Linked DNA regions of Homo sapiens: all the other regions are linked to region 1. The links come from fine-mapping of genetic effects on gene expression. A gene starts in region 1. Each other region holds a variant in brackets. All regions are shown on one strand. Distances are between the middles of the regions.

What was found.
Region 2: its variant is fine-mapped to the expression of DGCR5 in lung (GTEx, PIP above 0.99).
Region 3: its variant is fine-mapped to the expression of DGCR5 in anterior cingulate cortex (GTEx, PIP above 0.99). The same link has a PIP of 0.9 or more in cerebral cortex and prefrontal cortex.

What each region holds. Positions count from the first base shown.
Region 1 is chr22:18,965,822-18,973,994 of GRCh38, reverse strand. DGCR5 (DiGeorge syndrome critical region gene 5) reads right to left here and starts at 3,527. Exons shown (of 6, transcript NR_110533.2): 1 at 3,337-3,527. RefSeq lists an enhancer at 3,615-4,446.
Region 2 is chr22:19,032,925-19,041,097 of GRCh38, reverse strand. It overlaps DGCR2 (DiGeorge syndrome critical region gene 2), which reads left to right. Exons shown (of 10, transcript NM_005137.3): 9 at 1-40; 10 at 1,977-4,812. The coding sequence ends at 2,233. It also overlaps the pseudogene CA15P1. Among named protein-coding and RNA genes, the nearest start is that of FAM246C, 7.5 kb to the right of the region's middle. RefSeq lists an enhancer at 3,806-4,426 and a silencer at 4,910-5,079. The variant T/C (reference allele first, on the strand shown) is at 4,972.
Region 3 is chr22:18,987,138-18,995,310 of GRCh38, reverse strand. It overlaps DGCR5 (DiGeorge syndrome critical region gene 5), which reads right to left. Exons shown (of 6, transcript NR_110533.2): 2 at 7,411-7,554; 3 at 4,387-4,591; 4 at 3,294-3,494. Among named protein-coding and RNA genes, the nearest start is that of DGCR5, 21 kb to the right of the region's middle. The variant C/T (reference allele first, on the strand shown) is at 4,520.

The DNA.
Region 1 (8,173 bases):
AGAGGCAGCAGGCAGCCAGGCCGGCTCCTGCAGACCCCAAAGCCCAGGCCCTGGGTGGCTGCAGAGGGTCAGGCAGGCCAGCCTGGGGATCAGAGGTCAGGCTTGCCAGAATGGGGGCGGGACGGCATGAACCTCATTGATCAGACAGTAGCCAAGCGTCGGGAGCCCTCACTAACCCTGTGCCAGGGCCGGGCAGGGCGCCTGGCTCACACATGCATTTGTTCATTTCCAGGTCATCCTGAAACTCCCCGTATGCTTCCTGTTCTTGACCCCTTTCCCAGGTGCACAGACCAAGGCTCCCGGTGAGAGGTTCCGGGCCACAGGCCCAGGACAGCAGGAGGGCTCCTCTGCCTCCCACCCGTCCTGTCCTCACCAGCTGGACCCTCCTGGTGTTGCACCGGCTGCACAGGGCCGTCCGTGCCACAAAGCATGAATTCAAGGCTGGGGCAGGGACGAGGAGAGGGCAGTGCTACAAGGCTGCACTGTCCTTGGGCAGAGGGAGGCGGAGGGCACGGTCCCACATGCCCTGGCCCTCACAGCCTGCCTGTCACTCACAGCAACAGCAAACAAACCCCAGCCCCTCCACAGGCTGTGGGCCAGTCCCCAGCCTCCCAGGACAACAGGACCTTCCCCCACCTTCCAGGGCCCCAGCCCCTGTGGGGGTGTCCTCCATAGACCCTCCACAAGCCCTCTGGCTTTCAGAGACCTGCTGGGCCAGGCCCTCCCTCAACCTCTCCCCTGCTTCTCACTCCATGCAAACCTACGTTTCTGCCAGTCCCAGTGGAAGGACCCTGGCACAGGGAAACTGAGGCTCAGGGGTTCCACAGACCCCCAGGTGAGGAACAGGGGGAGGGCAGGGAGGGAGTGAAGGTACTATGGGAGGGTCTCCCAAGCTGGGCAGCATCCCTGCCCTGTCCCCTCTCCACTCACCTGTGGCCTGAGTTGCCTGACTAGGGGCTTTTATTGTCCCTTCTGCAAATGGATGGGGTGAGGGGCCAGCTGGCCATGCAAAGGTCCCAGGAGGACTCTGCTGAGTTGGGGTGTGGGGAGGTGTTCTGGGCATTCTGAGGCAGAAGCACCAGAGTCGGAACTCCACAGGGAAAGCCGGGCCAATTCCGCCCAGCCTCAGCCTGGAAGTGCCCCGATAATCCCTGACCACTGGCCCATGGTGCAGGTGAGGAAGACTGAGGCAGAGAGGTGACCTGTCACACCCAAGGTCACACTGCCAGCAGGTGGCTGAGCCAGGACCCAAATCCAGGTCACGGTTCTGCCACGGCAGGCCCTGCACGTGCCCCTCTGCCAGGTGGGGTCTAGGTGCTGATGGCCACCCATTCCCACCCCCGGCATGGGAGCTCACTTCCTCCTCACCTCAGTAGAGAAGAACAGGGAACAGTACCCCCTTTATAGATGGGAAGACTGAGGCTTAGAAAAAGAGACTGGCCAGCCCCACTGCTTCAGCTGCCCCTCTGCTAGTATGTTTCACCCTCACACAACCTACAAGGATAACCTGCTGGTCCCCACTCTATAGATGAGCCTCTGGTGGTGGCCAGGGGAGCAGGAGGTGTGGCCTGCCAATTGAAGCCCCAGCCCAGGGCCCTTGCCACAGTGCTAGTGGGCCACCCTTGCCCATCATGCAGCATGGCATCCATCTGCTCAGCACCCTACACAACACCGGAGGTAGGGGAGCCCACCACGGAACCCCTCACCAAGAAGGTCCTCACCATGGAGAAACTGAGGTACTGGAGGCGGGGCCTCTGCAGTCACGCTGGGTCACGTGCTCCAGTCAGCCAAGCTGCAGCGGCCACCAAGGGTGCCCAGGGTCTGGCCTGTTGGTCACAGTGTTGACCTCATGGCCTGAAATGGGTCTTCCCTGACCAGACAGGTTCCAGCCCACCATCATCTATCACTGCCTCAGCCCTGGTGGGTGCGGAGTGGCTGGGAGACCCTGCCCCTCACACCCTGGGCTGGGGGCATTCAATGAGCCCCCAACACACATTCCAGGGCCTCTGCTCCAGATTAGGCCACAGCCTGTCTAGGCACACAAGGGGCACCCACACCCTGGAGGCAAAGAGACATATGCCTATGTGCTCGCAGGCACACATGATCACGCGCACAGACACACGTGCAGATGCATACCAAGTTACACACACGCACACACGCCCGAGGCGGGGACCCCCAGGACACGGAGGCAGGCAGGCAGAGGTGGGGCCCAGGATGTCTTGCCCCTGTCTGTGGGCCTGGCCTCCCCACTCAACAGACGAGCATGTGGGTGCGGGAGTGGGTATTGTGAAAGGGGCCCCAGCATGTGCCACCCGTGGAGACCACAGCAGGCATGTCGCGTACATGCATGTGTGGCCGTGGGCGTGCAAGCGGGGGCGAGGACACAGATATGCACCCTCAGAGTCCGTGTGTGCACCCAGTGTTCGTGCATGTGTACACTGGGGTGGCGCTGGCACGCATGTGCACCAGAGGTGTGCAAGTGTGCAGTCCGTGTAGACATGTGCACGTGCAAGGAAACGTGTGTGCAGCCTGCGACACCATGGACATCAGCAGGGCAGCCTGGGTGGGCACCTGGGGAGCACCCTCCAGGCAGGGCATGCCCAACTCACATGGAGCCCACCCTCCCTTGCCCCCCACTGCGGGACCTCACACCCAGTGGGGCGGGGGAGTCTCACGAAGGCTGCCAGGGAGGGGATGCTGATTGCCCCACCACCCCTGATTCCCCCAGCCAAGCCTCTCAATGTCCCTCGGGCTGCGGATGTCTGGGCATTGCTGCCTCCTCTCACCGCCCGCCCTGGAGGCAGCGTTGGGACAACCTTGTCCCCCACGCCCTCTACTGCCGCCAACGCCCCCATTGATCCCCCTGAGGCCTGACCTCAGAAAAACGGGAGGTTCTGAGCCCAGTCCGCGAGGCGGGGGCGGAGGCGGCCCGATACCTCCACCTACTCTCGGTACCCGCGTTTCTGCAAAAAAACCCGCTCATTAACCCCTTCGTGGCCGCGGCGCCGAGGCCGGACCCCGTCCTTCCAGCCCGCGGCCCCCACCCCGGACCTGGCCCAGCCTCGGGGACCCCCGGGCCGCCACCCCCGGCCCCGCCATCGCCGTCAACTTACCCGGGAAGCGGCAACTTTTCCTGCTGCCTCCGGCTCCGCCCTCCCGGGGCCGGGGCGCCCTTGGCCCCAGCCTGGCGCGGCACTGCGGTGGCCCTCCCGGCCGCCCGGCTACGCTTCCCCAGCCTTGGAAGCCCTGGACGGGCCCTGCGGCTCCGAGGAGGGGCGAACCACCCCGCTCTGCGCCCCGCCGCCTGCTGGGCTCTGGCGCCGCGTGGACACTCACCTCCAGTGGACGCCCTCTTCATCATAGGGGTCAGGCGGAGCGGGTCGGGGACCGAAAGTCGCTTCGGGGCGGGCGCCAGTCTCCGGCCCAGCCCCGGGCCGGCATCCAGGCGCCGCCGCTCCGGCCCAGCCCCGGCCCGGCAGCGGGTCTAGGCTCCGCGCGCTCCGCTCCGCCCGGCTCGGGCGGGGCTCGGGCCGCGGGCGCGCAGGGCGCGGGAGGCGGCGGCGGGCGGGGCCCTCACCTGGGCGCAGGCGCCTGCCTGGGCGGGGGCTGGGGGGCGCGGGCCTGGGCGGGGGCTGGGGGGCGCGGGCCCAAGTTGGGGCGTGAGCGGCGCGGCTGGCCGGGGAGCGTAGGCCGGGCAGCAGGAGGTGCTCAGCCCACCCGGCCCTAGACAAAGCCGCGCATTCCTGAAGAGGCGGCGGCCCTGCAGGCGGCGGAGGGGATGGCGGCTGGGGCCATTGAGGCCTGGGGATGGCCTCTGCGCGACCCACTCGCTTCCTGGCCTCACGAAACCCATGAACCCCCCGCCCCCCCCCGCCCCCTGCACAGAAGCCCCTTGCTGGAGCACGATCGCCCCCATTTTTCAGTAAGAAACAGGCTCAAGGCTTAAGAGCGTTCTGGGGGCCCTCTTGGGCCTTTGTGGCCCTCTCTGCACCACCCCAGGGAGGGGACCCAGGCCTGATGTTACCCATAACCCTGCAGGGGTCCCCCACCTCTTCCTTCCTGCGGAATGTGGCCTCCAAACCCAGAAGACGCTCTCCGAGGCCGCCTGCTTAGTATCATCCCCCACTCTACTAAGCCAGCCCCCAGCGGGGCCGGGGGGGCGTCATGGAGCCAGAGAACCCAGTGACACCCCTACACACACCACACAGGGTGGGGGTGTTCCTTCTCCGTCTTCTGCTCGGGGGGCATCCGATGATGATGAGCTCCTAAGCCCATCCCGGGGTCTTCAGACAACTGCCAGGCTGTCCCTGCACCTGGAGGAGTGCTGGGAGTCAGCTCAGCTGGGCTGGGTCCTCCCCAGGCCCACCCTGCATGACAGGACCAGGGTCTTGCAGGCCAACCTGGTGTCAGTCTGTAGGACCCTGACTCAAGGACGGAGTGGGCCAGCCTGAGGTCTTGATGGCTCCCCTCAGAGCCCAGGTCCACTGATATGAAGCAGAGAGACCTGGTGACTGGGCAGCCCTGTGCTCTCTGCCTGCCCCTGGCCATGGAGGTGGCCCTGAGGGAGATGAGCAGGGCACAGGGCTGGTGACCTGCCTGCCTTGTCCAGAGGAAGTGAGGACCTCCCAGAGCCCTGGTGCTCCCATCTGATCCCAGTGGCAGGCAGCTTCCCAGGGTGGAGCCATGCTGGCCGGGCCCTCTGCCTGGTGTGGAGGCTGCACTGCCCACATGCCTCTGGCTGCCGCTCTGTGGCCCTCATCACCTTGGCCTGCTTTATCCCTATCACCCTTGTCCCAGCCTAGGCTTATGAGGGCATTGTGGAGTGCATGCCATTCCCAGCCACACAGAAGGTGAGGTGGGGCCCAGACACCCCCAGCCACTCTGTCCCCTGGCCTCCTGAAGGGGTGGGCTGTGCACACACTGCCACCTCCCCAGAGGGTGCTGGCTGCCGAGTGCCACCAGCTCAGCCCCTGAGGTGGCTCAACAGGTCCTCCCAGAGCCACACCAAGATGTCATCACCCATTGCACAGATGGGGAACCTCAGGCGAAGCTGACAGAGCCAGTGGGAGGCTGAGGCCTGACCCCTAAACAAGCATTCTTCCTCCAGGGTCCCTGCACGCAGCAGCCCCTAGACTAGGAACTGAGCTCTCACCACAGGGATGTATCAGACCCTAGATGAGTCATGAGGCACTGACCATCAGTCTGAGGACAGCGCTGGGGTGGACCAGGCTCCAGTCTCGGGCTGCTCTGTGCTTGCAGAGAGGGCTTGAGAGGACACTTGCGTGCTTACTATGCAGGCGTCTCTTCAATTACCAGTGACCCAGAGCGGCCCACTACAATTGAAGATTGTGACCCCACACCCTATCTCATAGGTTTAAAGCCCCTCCCACCCCTCCTGCAGCAGCCAAAGTGACCATTCTGGGGCATGGGATGGGCATGGGGGGAAATGGGGAGCCAGGGCTAACCTGGAGGCTTCTGGCACCACAGCCCTCTCCAGCCATCAAGTCCGGCTGTTCCCAGCTGCTCTGGGCTGGGACCTGGGCCTCCACCTCCCCACCTGTCTGTGCAGTGGGAGCAGGCCCAAGGCCCACAGAGGGAGCGCTGGGGGACCGGCTGGTTTCCTGTGTCCGCCACCTCGGTCAGCACCTTGGCCAGCGCCCTCCCCACTGGAAGCTGAGCCCACTCCTGGGTGCTAGCTGGAACGATTAGGTGTGGGCCAGCGCTGATAGGGAGTTATGGGGGTGCAGAGGCAGAGTTGAGCAGGGCTAGGCAGCCGGTCGGTCTGCTACCAGCAAGGCACAGCCCGCTTCTCAGGCTGTGCATGTGGGAGGGTTTGGTAAGCCACATTTTTCAGGGTGTAGCCAGGTCGGGGGGCAGCATGGGGAGTGGTGTACTCTCTGGGCAGGCGACCGCGGAGCCATCACCCCCCCAGGGCCCAACGGGCAAGGGAGGGAGGGCAGCTGACGGCTGGTGAGGGGCTAGCAGGGAGGGCTTGACAAGGGCTGGAGCCCCTGGTCAAGGGGCACAGCCAGTTCTATCGGGTCACCTCATGGGAGGAGCCAGGGACCCTGTGGGCAGAGCCTGGCCGTCTGCTGCCCGGAGTCTACACCAGTCAGTTCCTAGGAAGCCCCAGCAGGGGTGCTGGGAGGACAGGCCATCTGTGCCCAGCTGATGCAAGCTCCCAGGCTTTCTGGACACGTGGCCCTGGGGATCAGGAGTGAGCTGGAGACTGCAGACAGCTGTGACCTCAGGGCTGGGCAGACCTGTCACACCCTGCCTGGACTGGGTCAGCAGGGCCACACGGGCATCTGCCCGAATCGTTCCCCACCTCACACCCACCATGTAGGGCACATCCTTTGCCAGCTTCCCCAGCCCACCACCCCCCTCCAGTGAGGCCAGGGGCTGCCTCACCTCCCACCCCCACCCCCAACCTGGGGCTCGGCCTCCACGACCAGCATGCCGGTCATGAGGGCCCTGCCCAGCTGTGTGACCTCGGCCCAGCCCCTTGGCCTCGCTGAGCTTGCACAGCATGTGGACGAGGCAGACGCTAATGCCTCAGGGCCTGGTCAGCTGGTCACTGTCCCTCCTTTGTTCACCCCTCCTGTCCCCTGAGAGGATCATGCAGGGTTTTCACTCAAAACTCCATGCCTGCCCATAGAAGCCAGCTTGAGATGAGGGGACCTTTCGCAGTGGCCCGTCTTGGGCTGACAGGGACACGGTTCAGCCTCCTTGGAAGGTCCCTTCTTCCCAGGGCTTCGGGAGGCTCATCTCCCGCCTGGAGAGATAGGCGTGCCATGGCTTTCCTTGGCATGCCTGTGCGGTTCTCACGGACATCCAGGCCCTCGGTGTCTCCTGGGGAGGGATGGGCAGCAAGGAAATTGGGTCTTTGCTCCACACATTCTGGGCCACTCCAGGCCAATGCAAGGAGAGACCAGGAAGGAAGCTAGAAGGTCATGCGGCAAGCACATGCCTGCTGCCCAAGCGTGTCAATGTGACCAACCCTTCCCTGCACTCTGAGTGGGCGGCTAGGGATGTGGTCCCGGTGCCAGGGAGCTGGGGGGCGTCAGCCTGCCATCTGCTCTCACCACAGAGGGTGGCTGCATGCCCAAGGCCCGAGAGGACTCTGTGCCAGGCCTGCTGAGTGAGTCATCCCATTCAGTCCTGCAGTGTAGACACTACTACCACCACCCATTTTCCAGACCAGAGAAGGAGGTCTGGGGAGCTTAGGTGGACCCACGTCTTGGCAGCCTCTCTCAGCCCTCTCTTTGCCCACAGCCTCTGCCTCCTCCAGAAGCCTCTCACCATCCCCCATCCCCAGGGCTGCAGAGGGTGTCCTGGTCTTCCCCCATCAGTTCTGCACCCCTGAGGACTCCCATCCCTAGGAGTCCCTCTGCCCAACTTTGGTGCATGTTAAGCCATAATTAATATGCTTCCTCATCTCTTATTCATCAAAGCCACACGCAGCAGCAAAGGGGGCTGGCACAAGGAAGGGACCGACAACCAAATCCTGGCAGTGGCCCCAAGAATCCCACTGGGCCTGCCCATCTCCAAATGCCTCTGACCCTTCACTAGCAAGGGCCTCCTCCCACAGGGCTGCCTCCCCCAGCCCTGGACTGGATCCCTTGTGGCCCATCTCCAGGATGGGAACCTGAACAGAGATGAAAGGACACTCGACCAAGTGGGACATGCCAGGCTGGCACCTGGACCCCTGGTCCACCACTCTTCCTGGTGCCCAGAGGAAGGGGTGAGTCCCCAGGGTTCCTGGACCTTGAGATGAGCTCGGGCCACTTGTGTTCGCCAGCAGATGGGCTCAGGGTCTTCTCTCAGTGGGCACAACCAACTTGGTGGCCTCTCTCTGGGGAGGCCGGCTGGGTGGGGCTGGGGAGTAGGAGGCTTCTGGTCCCTGTAGGCACAAATCTGGTGCAGGGGCAGAGCTCCGGAAGGTGGGGGTCCCTGGGCTGTGCCCAAGGCATCCGCTGTGGCTTCACGCCCCTCCCCCACCCCTGCAGGGAGTACGGATCCTTCTAGAGCCACCCACCTGGCAGTGACAGCTAAATTGGGAGCTGCTGTTAACACCAGGAGCCCAGCAGGCAGTCAAACCTGGGTTGGGGGGGAGGGGCACCTGTTGAAAGCACCCACGAGCTCCCAGTGGAGCAGGGAAGGCAGGGAAGGC
Region 2 (8,173 bases), 67 kb before region 1:
GCCTCCATCCACCCGGACAGTGTGTTCTATGACCCTGCAGGTGCCTGACTCCCCAGGGAGAGGGAACACCTTGTCAAGTAACCTGGCACGTGGGGCTGAGCCCAGCACTCTTGCCCAGCTGCAGAGGCCTAGGGACCTCACTTCTTTCCGGCTTTGTCTTTGGTTTTTCCTTTAAGGCTTCTCCTGGGGCTGCCCGTGCAGAAGGGGTCCTGATCTCCCTGCCTGGCCGCCCTTGGCAATCTGTGCAGAGAGCTCTGAGAAGGCCTGGGACCCCTCCCTCCTACCTCCCTGCCTTCTGTGAGCACCTGTCATCTGGGCAGCCCTCAGGGCCCTCAGCCCAGCTCTAGAGACCTGGGGAGCCCGACAGTGGTGGTTGTGAAGACAGGGCTGGCCCAGACCCAGGAGCCAATCACTTGTCTGTAGACACATGAGCTAGAGACACCATGGTGACAGCCCCTCCTGTCGTGTCAGGAGGCAGCTCTGTGAGGTGGGAGGAAAGCGTGGCTTCTGTGCTACTGGCCCATAGTTGGAGCCTACCACCCATCTGAGAGTGGGCGCCATTCCTCAAGGCTGTGTAGCTAAGGAGTGGCAGGCCCCTGACCCCTGGCCTGTCTCTGTCTCTGTTGAGCAGTGCAGGTGTCCCATCCCATCTCCCTGTGCATTAGGCCCCCTAACACACACAAACCTGTAGTATATTTGGTAGGCAGTGCCACCCCAAAGTGGCTGGCTCCTTGCATGCCTGCCCATCTCGGCAGAATGGGCATTGTGAGGCTGGGGCTGCTGTGCCTAAAGGTCTCAGTCCTGTTCGTTTGTTTAGTCAGCTGCCACAGCTCTTGCATGATCTGGGGGTGCAGAAAAGACTTGCATTTGACCCCTGCCCTCATGACACAGATTGTCACAGTCTTCCAGGGTAGGACCAGCTTCCTGCAAGGGATGGTGGTGGGTGGCAGCAGATCCCAGACACCTGTGTGGGCCAGGCTGCAGAGCAGGGTGGGGGCTGTGAGGGGCTGGCCGGGAGGGAGGTGCATCACCGGGGCCTTGTGCTGTTAGCTTTCAGAGACAGCCTATGGTAATGACAAGCAGGCAGCCCAGGCGCAGTGGCTCACACCTGTAATCCAGCACTCTGGGAGGCTGAGGCGGGAGGAGGGGTCTCACTATGTTGCCCAGGTTGGTTCGAGACCAGCCTGTGAGACCTCCTTCTCCACAAAAAATTCAGAACTAGCCGTGCATAGTGGGCACAGCTGTAGTCCCAGTTACTGGGCAGGCTGAGAATGGAGGATCACCTGAGCCCAGAATTCAAGGCTGTCATGAGCCATGGTCACGTCACTGCACACCAGTGTGCAATCTTTTAAGATCCTGTCTCTTAAAAGAAAAAAAAAGCAAGTAATAAAGATCGGGCAAAACAAAGCGAGTCGACTGCCTACCACACAGCCTGCCTTGGATCAGAGCTTCCTGCAAACACCTGTGTGGTTTTCCAGGCCGCTCACTGCAGCCCTGTTGCCCACACTCCGGTTGCCACATTCCAGCTGCAGCCCTGAATGTTCTTCCACCCACCTGGGCCCAGTGCCTCCCTGATGACAAATGCCCCTGCCTTCTTGCTGAGCCGGGTCTTCACCTTACTGAGTCTGAGACGGTTTCCCTTTGGGCCCCTCTGTTCTAGTGACTGCTGGTCAGTGTGTCTCCCCTACCTCACACCGATGGTGGGACAGGCCCGTGTCTGCCTTTGTGAGATGGGCCCTGCACCTTGCATATACCAGGTTCCCAGCCACAGGGGGCAGTAGGTACAACAGGTGTCATGTGGGGCAGGCTCCTCCTTCAAAATCTGAGGCCCGGGGGAGCCACCCAGGTCCTGCTCACCACCCAGCTTCAGGGGGGCCTTCAGGCAGGAGGAGTGTCTCCTGGTTTTGCCTAGCTCCCCTGCATCCCCTGTGCCAGGCCCGTACCTGCCTCTGACACCCCTCTGTCTCTTCCTGCAGACGATGATGCTTTTGAGCCTGTGGAGGTCAGCCTGCCAGCCCCTGGGGATGGTGGGAGTGAAGGTGCATTACTCCGGCGCCTGGAGCAGCCTCTGCCCACTGCGGGGGCCTCTCTGGCAGACCTGGAAGACTCTGCCGACAGCAGCAGCGCCCTGCTCGTGCCCCCTGACCCTGCCCAGAGCGGGAGCACCCCAGCTGCAGAGGCACTGCCAGGGGGTGGCCGCCACAGCCGCAGCTCCCTCAATACTGTGGTGTAGACGGCCTGGCCTGTACCCCAACGGTCTGGGAGCACCTGTCTGTTGTAGAAAACACCGGTCCCTGGGGAGACTTGAAAGGCCCCTGTCCCAGCCTGGACGCCACGCACTGCCGCACGTCACTGGCGGGCTCGCGTGTGTACATAGAGACCACAGCCCGCCTTCTGCCAAAAGAAGTGATGGCCTGCACCGAGCTTCCTTGAGGGCTTCAGAAACATGCATAGCTTTGGATCACTGTCTTCTCCTTTATAAATGGCAGAAGAGTGACAAAATTCATTCAGACCGCACATGTTAGAGGCAGGGAATGAAGAAGGTACTGTGGGCCATGGCCACACCTGATGCGTTTTTGGTGGGCTTACTTGGTGCAGTGTGCTGTCCAGAGAGACCTGCTGACCCAGTCTGGGACAGGCACAGTGGGAGCTGCCACAGTGCCCCTTGCTGGCCGCCCTCAGGAGGGGGCCTCTGGACCGTCAGTGTGGCGTAGGCAGTGGGTCTGCTTCAGGGAGGCAGCCTCTTGACTTTGTCACAACGGTTGCACTGAAGATGGCCCCCACAAGCCCAGTTGTGAATATCAAGGTGACCCTGCCCCTGGCTGGGAGCTCCCCTGGGGCTCTGGAACCTGAAGCCCTGAGAAGGAGAGCTTGGAAGGAGGTTGAGCTCTTCACTGTGTCTTTCCATCTGGGCTCTGCAGCCCAGCTCTGTGGCAGGAGGCCTGACCCCACCCCATCAGTCCCTCTCCCAGCATTGCTGTGCATGGCTCCCTCAGGAAGAAGCTCTGGAGTGGGGCCGAGGCCCCAGATGCTCTGCTGGGGTCTGGGGACTGAGCTGCCTCCTGTCTCTCCACTCTGGAGCCCTGGGCTCTTGCCTCCTGTTGAATTGCCCCTGGGCCTGCCCCCGGCCCCATTTGTGCCATAAAGGGTTGCTTCATTGCAGGAGGGGTGGCTGAAACCACCATCCTGGGCTGCATCTATCTCCTTAAAGTCCACTCCTTACATCACCGCCACTACTGCAGCTCAGTGCCCAGCGGCCGCATGCACACCTCCCGGCCCCTCCTCAGCAGCGCAGGGGCTGGGGGCCCTTCCTGGCACCCTTTTGCCTGACGGACCCTGTTGCCTGCTCCTGGGCAGTGGTTTTGTTGCCTGACACAGGGCCTTTAACATTTCTGAGGTTTGGAGATTAAGCGGGTTCTGTGCGATTTTTAGCACATCCATATCTTTTCTACGTTGAATGTCTGGATCTTTCCTTTGTATGTTTGTGTCTCTGTGTGTGTATGTGGCCAAGCGTCTGCAGGTGAGGGTGGCACATGGAACTTCACGGGTCACTGGGGGCCCACTCTTCCAGGGTCATCGATGCATCCTGGGCTGTGCTGAGGCAGTGCTGTCTCGCTCAGTCTTTCCAGACCAGCGGGGCAGCACCTGGGAGGCCTGTCTGAAGCATGCAGTTCTGTGGTGCTGCTCGGGGATGGACTCCATGCACAGTCCACTTCTTGACACATTCTCACACTGTGGCTGGAGACCCATTTTTTCCATCCCATGTGGAATGAGAATCTTGAGTTGCCCACAGACAGACTTGACCTTTGTGCCAGAACTGTCCAGAGCTGTGAGTTTTGTTACTGAATTGCCTGTCCCTGAGCTTGGCCTGCTGGAGCATGATGCTGGAGGCTGTGTGCGGGCAGGCTTGTGCTCCCCTTGGAGAAGGGCTGCTACTTAACAAGGAAGTCCTGGCCACAGGAGTCCCCTACTGGCTGCAGAGGACGAAGCAGGAAGCATGCCGTGGATCCCACATGCACTGGGGCAGGGCAGCCAGGTTCCAGAGCAGCAGGCATGTGCATTATGGGTGCCAGGTGGCCAGTGAGGGCCCGAGGACCACGCAGCAGAGTCCCCCACGGGCCTGAGCCTGAGAGCTCAGAGGATTCCTGCCAGGCCTCAGAACTGTGTGTGCGGGACAGGGTGGCTGGCACGAGATGTGTGGGACTGGGACGCTTCCTTTGGGGACCAGAGGAACATTAGGGGCCGGTCAGACACGTAGGGGGCAGTGAGGAAACGGGGTAAAGTGGACCATGCAGGCTGCAGAGGGTGGGCCTTGGGCTGGCCGGGGTTGCTGGGTGGCCCCTTCCCCATGGGCCTCCACAAGCACTCAGGCCACTGGCACGTTGGGCCAGGCAGAAGGTCCACATGGCAGGGCTGCCTGGAACACCGCTGCCACTGTGGCTCCAGGAGGCCCTTGGGAGCATGAGGAGAGCTGGACTCGCTCATCTGTTCTTGCACCACCATCCAGAATGCCCCCTTTGCAAGGCCTGCTGCAGTCCCCAGTCTGACCAGCAAGTCCCGGGGTCACCCTTGCTGAACCTTGTGCTCCAGGGGTCCTCCTCCTCTAGGACCAGCTTGCCACGGTTTCTCAGAGCCCAGGTGCCCTCTGACCTGCCATGCGGAGGTGGGATTTGATACTGTACATTGTCTTGATGCCTGTTTTTTTATGTTTTCATTAAGGGTTTTTAGTTTTTGGTTGGGTTGACACTAACTTTTCTTAAGATGCTGTGAGAATCATTTCATCCAAATGCCAAATAAACTTGTGTTCCGGAAGAGGCATGGTTAGTCCTTGGTGTGGCCCCCACGGCTGCCACAGGCTAAGGTGGAAGAGGCTGGGTACCCACCTTTCAGCAGAATGCACCTAGGGTTTGCAGCCCTTGCAGGCGTCCATCAAACCCCCTGAGGACCAGGCAGAGCTGAGCCTGGAGCCCC[T/C]AGGTGGAGTGTGCAGGGAGAGCAGCAGCCCTGAGCTGCCTACAGCTATCCTGCAGCACCCAGCCCTGCTTGGGGCATCGGCTGCTGCCTTGGCAGGTGTTGCTGACGTGCACAGGATCCACATAAAGGCAAGGCTGCTTGACACCATCTGGGAGCTAGCATGGGACGGGGTGGTAGGGCAGGGCTTGGAACCTGGCCGTCAGCGCCATTTCCTCTAAGCTCCCCTCATCATCCGGGTGGCTGGAAACAGCCCCTCCCTCCAGTCCAAGCCACCTAATGTTACAAAGTAGCCTAGGTCCTCTGGGGCCTCTTCACTCATGTCCAGCAGTGCCATCTCTAGGTCTCAGAGGGTAGTGGGCCCAGGAAGTGTGATTGCATGCCCTGCTCTGGGGGCACTCCAGATGTGTATACTGGGGGGACGTCCTGCGGCCGGACACGAGAGGAGTCAGGGTTAGGAAAGGAACTGGTAAGTCCCTTGGCAGGGATGGGAGCCTCGAGGATGTGGCCCCTCATTTTTTATCCCATCTGCTGGGGCAGGAGTGGAGTGGTGGTGTTGAGTCCCGAGCACACAGGTCACTGTCAGCACTCTGGACAGAGCCCCGAGCCCTGCCTCTGGGTAGGGGCTGTCTTCCCATCCCCAATGTGGGTAGGGCCCTGCCCTCTGGCGATTGGAAAGAGGCGCAGGGTGCAAAGAAGTCCCCTCCTCTGACCTCCTGCAGGGCTCCGTCTTGGCCTGGATCCGCAGGGGGGCCTGGGTAGGAGGGAGGCTGTGGTCTTGGGATGGGGTGGCAGTTCCGGGCCCACAGTGGGGCAAGAGACATCCTACACCTTCCTCCCATCCTTGCCCCGAAAGTCATGGGCACTGGGGTCCAAGGTGCCCTCACTATTTGACCTTTCTTGCTGGTGGCTTTGGTGTGTCATTCTGGTCCCCAGCCTCTGTTTCCTGGACTGTAAGTGGGGATAATAATAGGTCACCCCTCCCCTGCAGGATTAACCTCAGCGATTGTTGCTGGCATCAGTGCAGCCCTGGGACCAGAGCACACCTGGGTGAGTTTGGAGCGCTCGCGCTCTTCCTGGTGGCCCTGCCTGGGCACCGACCCCTCCCATCCTCTCCTCAGTAGCCACGCCCCTAGCCCAGCTAGCTAATGAATAAATATGTAGTAGCCAGGCCAGCATCCTGGCTGCGTGGTCTAGCCACTTTCTAGTCCTTCCTAGCTGCGGCTGCCACTGAGCCACGCACGCCCCTGGCATCATGCTCGCCTTGCGGTGCAGCTGGTGTGGCGCAGACTCTGAGAGTGAGCACCAGGACTCTTCCTGTCTGGCCTCCAATCTACCCTCTTGCCATGCTCCACCACCCCTTAGGTCTTGCCACTGGGAGTGGGGAGGGACTGGGGAGAGAAAATACTGAGGTAGGGGTGACAGGAGAGAAGGTTCTTCACTGGCCTCCCCTGGCCTAAACCCCTGACCTACTTCATTCTTGGACCCCAGCTGATGGGATGGGGCTTGGAGAGGGCCCAGATGACTGGCCTCTCAGCTCAGCCTCCTGCCCACTGTCTCTATAGGTGCCTGGTGCTATGACTCCCAGGACCTCAAGTATGGTGAGGACAGAGTGTCATGTGAGGCTGTGTCAGATCAGTCTGTGTCCTGGGACCACCAGAGCATGTGCCAGTGGTGCAAGAGTGGCCAAGAGACAGTCTGCACCCTGCACTCTGTGGCCTTTGCAGGTTTCTGTCTGTAGTCGTCTGCCCCAGTAGACTGACTGGGCATCAGGTGCAAGTGCGTGACTGTCCCCCTGTGTGTGAGTCTGGGCCTGCTGTGATTGCCGGTCCCGAGTCAGTCAAGGCTGGTGTGCCCGTTACTGTGGCCAGCCCAAGTGTGTGCAGGTGATAGAGGTCCCAGTGTGGGTGTGCAACTGTGTGCCGGAGACCCTTCCACCTTCATCTCACCATGGGGCAGCCAACTGGGAGACTAGATGGATAGGTCAGATGCAGGGTACAAGAGAAGGGGGGTGCTGTGACCTGTTCAGGTGTGGGGGAAGCAGGGAGCTAGGTTTCCTGAGGCTGGGCTATCCTCTGGGTGTATGGGGGCCACTCTCTGCTGCACCCCCAGGCTGCCTCCCTGACCCCCCCCCCACCCCAAAGGCCCCAGTCCTTGTTCCAGCAGTCCCCACCCACTGGAAGAAGCTGGCCCCCTGCCTGTGGGGGCCCAGGCCAGTCCCTCATCAACATTGACTTTCACAGGGTCCGGCGGAACTCTACCCTAGGGCCCTTCATCTTCCGAGGCTATGACTCAGCACCTCCAGGCCCTTGGACCCTGGAGAATGACAGCCACACAAGTCAGCACCCTGTGGTCAGGACCCCTCCTAGGCAGAGGCAGGAGCCCCACACAGGGCATGAGAGCTCCTGCGTGTACACAGGGACCAGGACCCCCTACACACGGGAGCTGAGACAACCTACAGGGCCAAAAACCCTCCACAGGGGCTAGCTTCAGAGGAAAGGAGCATCCTCACACAGCAGTCCAGATGCACCCTCTGTGTAGGTGCCAGGTCCCACCTTACAAATCACAACCAGCCATGGCCCCTGAGGACCAGGAGTCAGGGTCTCTGGCAGGGCCAGGATCCCTGACCACACACAGCTGGGCTTAGAGCCCCACACCAGGAGGGCTGCCCTCTGCCCTCTTCCATGCCATGCTGGGTGTGGGGGGGGGAAGGGTTTCCCCTGCAGTCTGTGGAGCTCTGCTCTGCTGACCAGCAGGAGCCATGGACACCATGGGTTCCATTCCATGGAGGCAATGGGGCCGCACTGGGGAGAAACCTGGCCTGAGGAAGGGCCTCTGCTCATACCCTGTGCCCTAATGGCACAAGATGGACAGGTGGTGAGGTAGAGAGGGTGTCGTGTGCCTCCTCCCCTTCATTGCTACTCTGAATGGACACTGATCCTCAGAACCACCTGGAGATTTGGGAGGCTGGGCTGCTGTTGCCTGTCTACCGCGCACTGCAGCTGCACTTCAACTGCCGGCGGTGGGGGGGCCCGAGGCGAGCAGACTCGGAGCACAGCCTGGACAGGCAGCGCCAGGCTATGGAGGTAGACTCGGGAACAAGGTGGGGTGGCCGGAGTGCTCCCACGGAGGTGAGAGAGAGCAAGGTGAGGGCAGCTGGGTATCTCCCACATCTGTGCCTCCCCCCAGATGCACGTGGTCCACA
Region 3 (8,173 bases), 21 kb before region 1:
GTGCCATTTGCCCATGAGATGGGGGCACAGGTGGGACAGCTTCCCCCGCACATTGTACAGGAAGCCACAGCCCTCCTCCAGCCCTGCCCCAGGGCTGACTCACCCTTCCAAGACTGTGACAGAAACCAGGGCCACTTCACATCAGAAAGCCCTCGGGAAGGATGGTGGCCTGGGCCCTTGAGCTACAGCGCAGCCCTGGGGAGGGGCCAGGGGAGGCCACCCAGGCCTCTGGCTCTGACTCCTAGACAGGAGGGTCCCACATAGGCCACTCCCAGGCTGGCTGCCACCCACTTCCTGGCTGGATAGCACTGTCCTGCCGAGGACAGCACTCGGGCCACTCCCCAGTTCATCTGCAGGCCCACAATGGCCGGCTCACACTCCCAGGCCGCTTAAAATGCCAGAGGTTAAACATTAGCCGCCCAGTCTTTTATCCTGCAGCCCAGCTTGTGGCCCTGAGGGAGAGTGCCTACCGTCCCCAGCAGCTGTCACCTTCCTTATGATCAAAGCGGGAGGAGAGCGGCACCCTCGCACAGACCATCTCTGAAGCGAGGGGCAGACTCCAAGAGCTCCTCAGAGCCTGAGCTTTGGGTTTGCCATCGCGGGGTTTAATGCACAACCAGGGCTCTCTGAAAACCCTTGTAACGGGGATTTGTTATGGAAATCTTCACAGACTCTGGCCAATCCTGGAATATATTTTTTTAATTGGTTGATTTGCTTCGTTCAAAGCGCTTAGAATGGAAGATTTAGTTTGAGGAGGGGCAGGTTTGGGGGTAGGCTCAGCGGGCATAGTGGCCACAAGAAGATGCCCATCTCACACCTGGAGACGTCCATGAGCACCTCGAAGCTGGCCGTGTGGCTGCACTGGCGTACGACATGGGTCCGGTTCCTGGACAGGAGCTTGAAGCCCCGGGCAGACCACCCTCCCGTCCCACTGACACTGCGTAGAGAAGGGAGAAGAGGCAGGGGTGAGACGGTTCCCTCCGCCCATGTCTGTTGGGGGCAGTCTTTGCCCGGCCCTGGGGACTCCCAGGCCATCCTGGCCAAACCAAACAGCAGGTATAGTGAGTGCTGAAAGCCCGGCGCCCTCGCAGGCTGCTCCCCACCGTGTTCCTCACCGGCCCCCTGCACCGAACAGCCACCCAGCTGCAAGAGCAGCAGGCTCGCTGCCGCAGAGGCAGGACCATGGGAACAGTCTCCCTTCCCTTCTGTGTCTCTCTCATCAGGGCCTCCAAGGAGCACCCTCTGAAGTTCAAGTTCTACATGTCACCTAGCAGCAAAACTCAAACGGGGCCGTCTTGCGTCCACCACGTGCCCCGCTGCTGGAACCACCACCACCCCGGGTTCACACAGCTGCGATGCACTCCTCTGTCTCTTTCTGAGGGTAGATGCTTTCAGAAATAACATCTCGCCTTCCTCTGACACTTCCATCTTCAGGTGGCACAATGTTTTATGGGAATTGCCCAGAAGCCAGGGCCCCATTATGACTCCTGCCTCACTGATGGGAAGCCCCAAATAACAAGCTGTTACGAGGTGTGTCTCGGCTTCTGACAGGGCCCTGCCCTCCGCCAGACTGGGAAAATCACATAACCTCTCAGATCCTTAGTTTGCTAATCTGTAAATGGGATGTGAACGTTAATACATTTGCCACAAACTTTACAATCTGGAAATCATAGGTGCAACATAAAGCAGACAGCAGGTCATTAGAGCTGAAGCTAATTGCCGGAAAAAAGATGAATGCCCGGGACAGAGAGCTGGGCCTGACGTCCCTCGTGGTGAAAGGGGTTCCTTTCTTCTCTCTTTTATAAGCCAAGCGCCTCTTACATTCCAGGTACTGTGCTGGTTGCTTATGAACTAGAACTTGGAAAGCAAAGAAGCAGGAGAAGAATGAGGCTGGGCTGAACTGGCTCCTGGCGTGGGCTCACTCACCATAGCGCAGCCCCCAGGACAGCCCCCACTCATGGCTCTCCACTGTGCCCAGAGGAATTGTGATGGGGAGAGTGTTCCTGCTGCACGGGCGCCCCCAGATGCACAACGTTCAGCAGATTGAAGCCTGGGGGTGCTCACGCTCTTGACTCCCTGAGTCCGGCACAGTGTCTCCCCTTCCTGCCACTCCCTCCTGGTATGTGGAGAGAGAGCAGGTCTTCCCCTCCCAGATTGTGCTCCCATCCTTCCACCACACCCCAGTTCTAATGTTTTCTTCTAAACAGAGACAGCAAAAGTGAAAACAAACCAGCAGAGAAAAAGCAAGCTCCCTGTAAAGACAGAGCAACTCAAGTAAGTCCGCACCTCACATAAACCATGTAGCTAAAAAAGCAAAACCAAAGCACAAACACTACTGGCTCCCAGCAGATGAGAGCCACAGCATGGCTCTGAATCCACTATCTCATACATGGGTGAATCCACAGTCTCATGTGTGGGTGAGAATCATTAATTTTGCATTTTTCTAAGTACGAAACGCCTTTCCCTCACTTGAATGGATGCTAGAACGTAGACTCTCGTGCACCACCTCCTGCCTTCGCCACTCTGACGGTGCTTCTGAAACAGGCCAGATAAACAGTGCTGTGGCAAGGTGTGGCCTCTTGTGGGTAAAGCCAGACCCCAAAGCTGGGCTGTGTCGGCCTCTCGGGCAAGACTAAGGTCAGGGACCTTTGTCTGGTATGGGGACCCCCACACGTAGCTGGGAGTTCCCACTGTCAGCAGAAGGGCTCCTGGGCCCAGTCTCTGGGTTCTGCCTCCCATGTGTGACCAGAACAGGCCTCTGTCTTATCCAGCAGTGAACTGGGCACTACACTCGTGTTGGCCACTGCATCTCGGGAGTCCCACAAGTGAGAGGCCCCTTCCTGGGTGTCAGCCTTGAGGGATCTCTTTGTGCGCCTGCATGTCTGTGTCTCCACGTGCAGGTCTGCGCGCATCTGTTCACACAGGTCCACGCTCACCTGTGTGTGGGCCTGCATGTGCACACATCTGTGTCTCCACGTGCAGGTCCGCGTGCACCTGTGTGTGGGCCTGCGTGTGGGCCTGCGTGTGCGCACGTGTCTCCACGTGCAGCTCTGTGTGCGTCTGTGTGTGGGCCTGCGTGTGCGCATGTCTGTGTTTCCACGTGCAGGCCTGTGCGCGTCTGCGTGTGGGCATCTGGGGGGGCTCTGATGCACCCACAGAAGCAGAGCAGGAGGCTCACTGCCCCACAGGGGGCTGAAGGGGGAGACACAGACCACAAGAGACTGTCCCCGTGGGACGATCTGCCGCTGAGCCAACAACCCTGCGGGTTCTCTGTGTCTTGGCAAAGCCCTCACATGAAGATGCAGAACTCCCGGCATCACATTTACGCCAGGGAATGGTTCCAGAACACACAGACAGGCTTGGTTCGCTTCTCCATCTCCAGCAGGGTGAACTCCACCAGGACGGGCCTCTCCAGGGGTCTCGGAAGTGGAGCCCCCTCGCTGTACACCAGTGCGCTCACCATCGACGTATTAATGATGGGCCAGTGAGGCAGCCTGAGGTCAAGAAGCCAGAGCACAGGGACAAACATGATTAGGAAACATTTGCTTAATCCCATGCACAAATGCCCTGAGGACATGCCATGGATGTGTTTCTAGGGGAGACAGAATCACACTCCGAGAGCTTGGATCTGTGGGCCCCACGGCATCTTCATCCCCAGAGCAGGTTTCATCACTGACAGGGCACACAGGGAGATGTGTCACCTTTGGGTCAAATTAGGACTTCAGAAATTTAAAAAGAAAGAAGGCACAGGTGCAAAGATGTTACAGCCCATAATAGCTAATGGCAGAAACACAAGGAATGGCTTAAATGTCCAGCAAAAGACACCAAAATAATGACAGCTCATGGGGGTCAATCACCCAGTCACTGAGAACCACGTGAACATGAGGACCCCAGAGCCAGGGAAGTGGGAAATGGCAGGAGGACGAAGGGCGGATCCTCGGGCTGCTCCCACCAAGCAGGCCCCAAAGCTGCTTGTGGGACATTCATCCTTTCCAGCCAGGACTGGCTGAGCAGCCCTAACCCTGGGGCCAGCAGCAGGCACTACCCATGACAGCCTCGGGTCGGGTGTGTGGGGAGAGAATCGAGTCCCTCGGGGCACAAGATGGGGTGTATGCTTGGGAGGGGGCATTTCTGACAGAAACACTGGGAAAAGGCCAGGCAAAGGGTGTGCAATGTTCCAGGGTGTGGTGTCCTGTGGCAGACCCAGAACCTCCCTCCCAGGGACACTGCAGGACAGTGGTCTCTGTCTCTGGGCCAGGGTCACAGTGAAATGTCACTGTGAAGGCCTGTGCTTGATCAGGATCAGGATTTTGACTTGTGGAATCTCTTTTGACTTAGGAGCCTCTGGAATGGGCCCTCTCCATGTGCCCCATACCCAGGCCTTACCAGAGGCTGCGGCGGTTGGGGTCATAGGGCTCAGGCGGGAGCTGCCCCGGGGTACAGTAAACGATGACCAGAGTGAAGGTGAACTAGCCAGTGTCATCAGGGTGTCGCTTTCACCTGCTGATCGGGGCCTCCC[C/T]CTCGGTGCCAGGCCCTGGGCGTGTGGTCTGCGGGGTGGTCCTCCGGCTGGCTGGCCTTACCAGGGGGCCTTCTGCAACGTGAGCAGAGCGTGAGGACTCCGGCAGGAGCACCTGTGTTCCCCAAGACAGCTCTCAGTGCCAGCAGGTGCTTCTCAAAACCCAACAGATGTCCCACCGAAAACAGTATGGTGCGTCCTCAAAAAATCAACCACAGGATTTACCACGTGACCCAGCAAGCCCACTTCTGGGTATACACCCAAAAGAACTGAAAGCAGACGCCCAGATACGTCTTCACCCCTGTTCAGAGCAGCACCATTCACACAGGCCGAAAGGTGGAAACGACCCAGGCATGCGTCAACAGGTGAGTGGATAAACAATGCGTGCTCCATCCACACAACAGAATATTACTCAGCCTTCAAAAGGAGGGAAAGTCTGACGTTTGCTACAACACAGGTGAACCTAGAGAACATTACGCTCAGTGAAATAAGCCAAGCACAAAAGGACAAATATTGTATGATTCCACTTATGGGAGGTCCCTAGAGGAGTCAAATTCAGAGACAGAAACAACGGTGGGCACCAGTGGCTGGGGAGTGGAGTTGGTGTTTTGTGGGCTAGAGTTTCAGATCTGCAGGATGAAAAGAGTTCTGGAGATGGACTGCTTAAACATGAATGTATCTGATGCAGTTTTGAGGTCTGGCCCCTCCAAATCTCATGTTGAAATGTGATCAGGGTTGGAGGTGGGCGTGGTCGGGGTTGTTTGGGTCATGGGGGTGGGTCCCCCATGAATGGCTTGGTGTCCTCCCCTTGGTAATGAGCGAGTTCTCACTCTGTTAGTTCCAGAGAGAGCTGGCTGCAATGGAGGGTCGGGGACCTCGTCCTCTCAGTTTCAAGCATGACCCCACATCAGAGTCACCCCTCTTTTTAAGACACATGAGGGCCAGGCACGGTGGCTCACGCCTGTAATCCCAGCACTTTGGGAGGCTGAGGCGGATGGATCGCGAGGTGAGGAGATCGAAACCATTCTGGCTAACACGGTGAAACCCCGTCTCTACTAAAAATACAAAAAATTAGCTGGGCGTGGTGGCGGGCGCCTGTAGTCCCAGCTACTCTCGGGAGGCTGAGGCAGGAGAATGGCGTGAACCCGGGAGGCGGAGCTTGCAGTGAGCGGAGATCGCGCCACTGTACTCCAGCCTGGGCGATAGCGTGAGATTCTGTCAAAAAAAAAAAACAAACAAAAAAAAGACACATGAGGTAACACCATATACCTGACAAAATCCATTTACTAAGAAGGTTTCCAATTTTAAACTGTCCATTATGGAGTTTACCTTTTCATGTCCTTTTTATTTGGGGAAGTTTTTAGTAATTGTCACAGATCTGTAAAAAAAGCACCTTAAGAAAGTTCAGAATGTTCAAACTGTTTTGTATCATAATCTCAACCCAGGAGTGAAGATTTGTACATACACAGACAGCATTCTTGTTTGTTTTTGTTTGTTTGTTTCTTGCAGGGAAGGGAAGGTGAGTCTAAAATTTCTATTTCTATTTAGAATCAGCTTCCCCTGCCTCCCCCGACCCAGACAGGTTCTTGCTCTGTTGCCCAGGCTGGGCTGTAGAGGCATAATCACAACTCACTGCAGCCTCATCTCCTGGACTAAAGCAATCCTCCCGCCTCAGCCTCCTGAGTAGGTTGGACTACAGGCATGTGCCACCATGCCCAGGTAATTTAAAAAAAAACTTTTTTAGTATAGATGGGGTTTTCCTATGTTGTCCAGATTGGTCTTGAATTTCTGGGCTCAAGCGATCCTCCCCATATCGGCCTCCCAAAGTGTTAGGGTTACAGGCGTGAGCCATCATGCCCAGCTAGAAGCAGCTTTGAACCCAGGAGGCAGAGGTTGCAGTGAGCGGAGATCGCACCACTGCACTCCAGCCTGAGCGACACTGTGAGACACCTTTTCAAAAAAATTAATAATAATAAATAAATAAATAAATAAATAAATAAATAAATATGTCCAGCCAGTGTCAGTGTGACAGTTGTGGTCATTTTGATAACAGCAAGGGTTCAAGAAAGCCCTGGGAGTGATGTCTGATTAAAGGAACTGTCCCCCCAGTTCTTGCTGTCAACATCTTTGACAAGTTCAACTTCACGGGTTCAACTGCCCATCAAAGACAATCAGCTCACATACAAATTTCAGTTCTCTTTTCTTTCTCAAGTTATCAGTTACAAGGCTGAGTATCCCTTAACTGAAATGTTTGGGAACATTCTGGATTCTTTTTTTTTTTGAGACAGAGTCTCACTCTGTAACCCAGGCTGGCACATCTTGGCTCACTGCAACCTCTGCCTCCTGGGCTCAAGTGATTCTCATGCCTCAGCCTCCTGAGTAGCTGGGATTACAGGTGCCCACCACCACAGCTGGCTAATTTTTTGTATTTTTTAGTAAAGACGGGGTTTAACCACATTGGCCAGGGTGGTCTCGAACTGCTGACCTCAGGTGATCCCCCTGCCTCGGTCTCCCAAAGTGCTGGGATTACAGGCATGAGCCACTGTGCTCGGCCTGGATTTTGATTTTTTTTTATTTTAAAGTATCATTTCATACTTACCCTCCAATGAGCACTTCCTTTAAGTGTCAGGTTGGTGCTCAAGAAGGTTCAGATTCTGGAGCATTTCAGATTTCAGGATTAGGATGCTCAACCTCTACCTAAGCACTTGGACAAAACAACCTGCTGTCACCAATAGGACTTGGTGCCAGCGAACACTCGGAACACTCCGGCCCCGGATCTTCAGTGCGCAGGGAGTATGGCGTGTTCATCCTCCTGGGATGCCCGCAGGGGGAGCCCTCCCCTCCCTGAACGCTGGGGACTCCAAGGGAAGTAGCAGGTTTCTAAGCGGTTCTACCTTTTTCTTCAGGTGGTTTGAAGAAGTTGGCTGGGAAGGAGATGGAGGACTCCAGCTCCCTGGGGAATTCTTCATGAATGGCGTCGAACCATGGGACTCTGGCTCCCGTGAAGTTGAACTTGTCAAAGATGTCGACAGCAAGAACTGGGGGGACAGTTCATTTAATCAGACATCACTCCCAGGGCTTTCTTGAACCCTTGCTGTTATCAAAATGACCACAACTGTCACACTGACACTGGCTGGACATATTTATTAATTAATTTATTTTTTATTATTAATTTTTTTGAAACGGTGTCTCACAGTGTCGCTCAGGCTGGAGTGCAGTGGTGCAATCTCTGCTCACTGCAACCTCTGCCTCCTGGGTTCAAGCAGTTCCCCTGCCTCAGCCTCCCGAGTAGCTGAGATTACAGGCACACACCACCATGCCCGGCTAATTTTTTGTATTTTTGGTAGAGAATGGGTTTCACCATGTTGGCCAGGCTGTTCTCAAACTCTTGATCTCAAGTGATCTGCCTCCCTCGGCCTCCCAAAGTGCTGGAATTACAGGCATGAGCCACCGTGCCCAGCCTACTTATTTATATGTATTTTTTAAGACAGGGTCTCACTCTGTCACCCAGGCTGGAGTACAGTGGTGCAATCTCAGCTCACTGTAGCCTCAACCTCCTGGGCTCAAGCGATCCTCCCACCTTAGCCTCCTGAGTAGCTGGGAATACAGGAGCATGCCACCACACCTGGCTAATTTTTTTTTAAATAGAGATGGGGT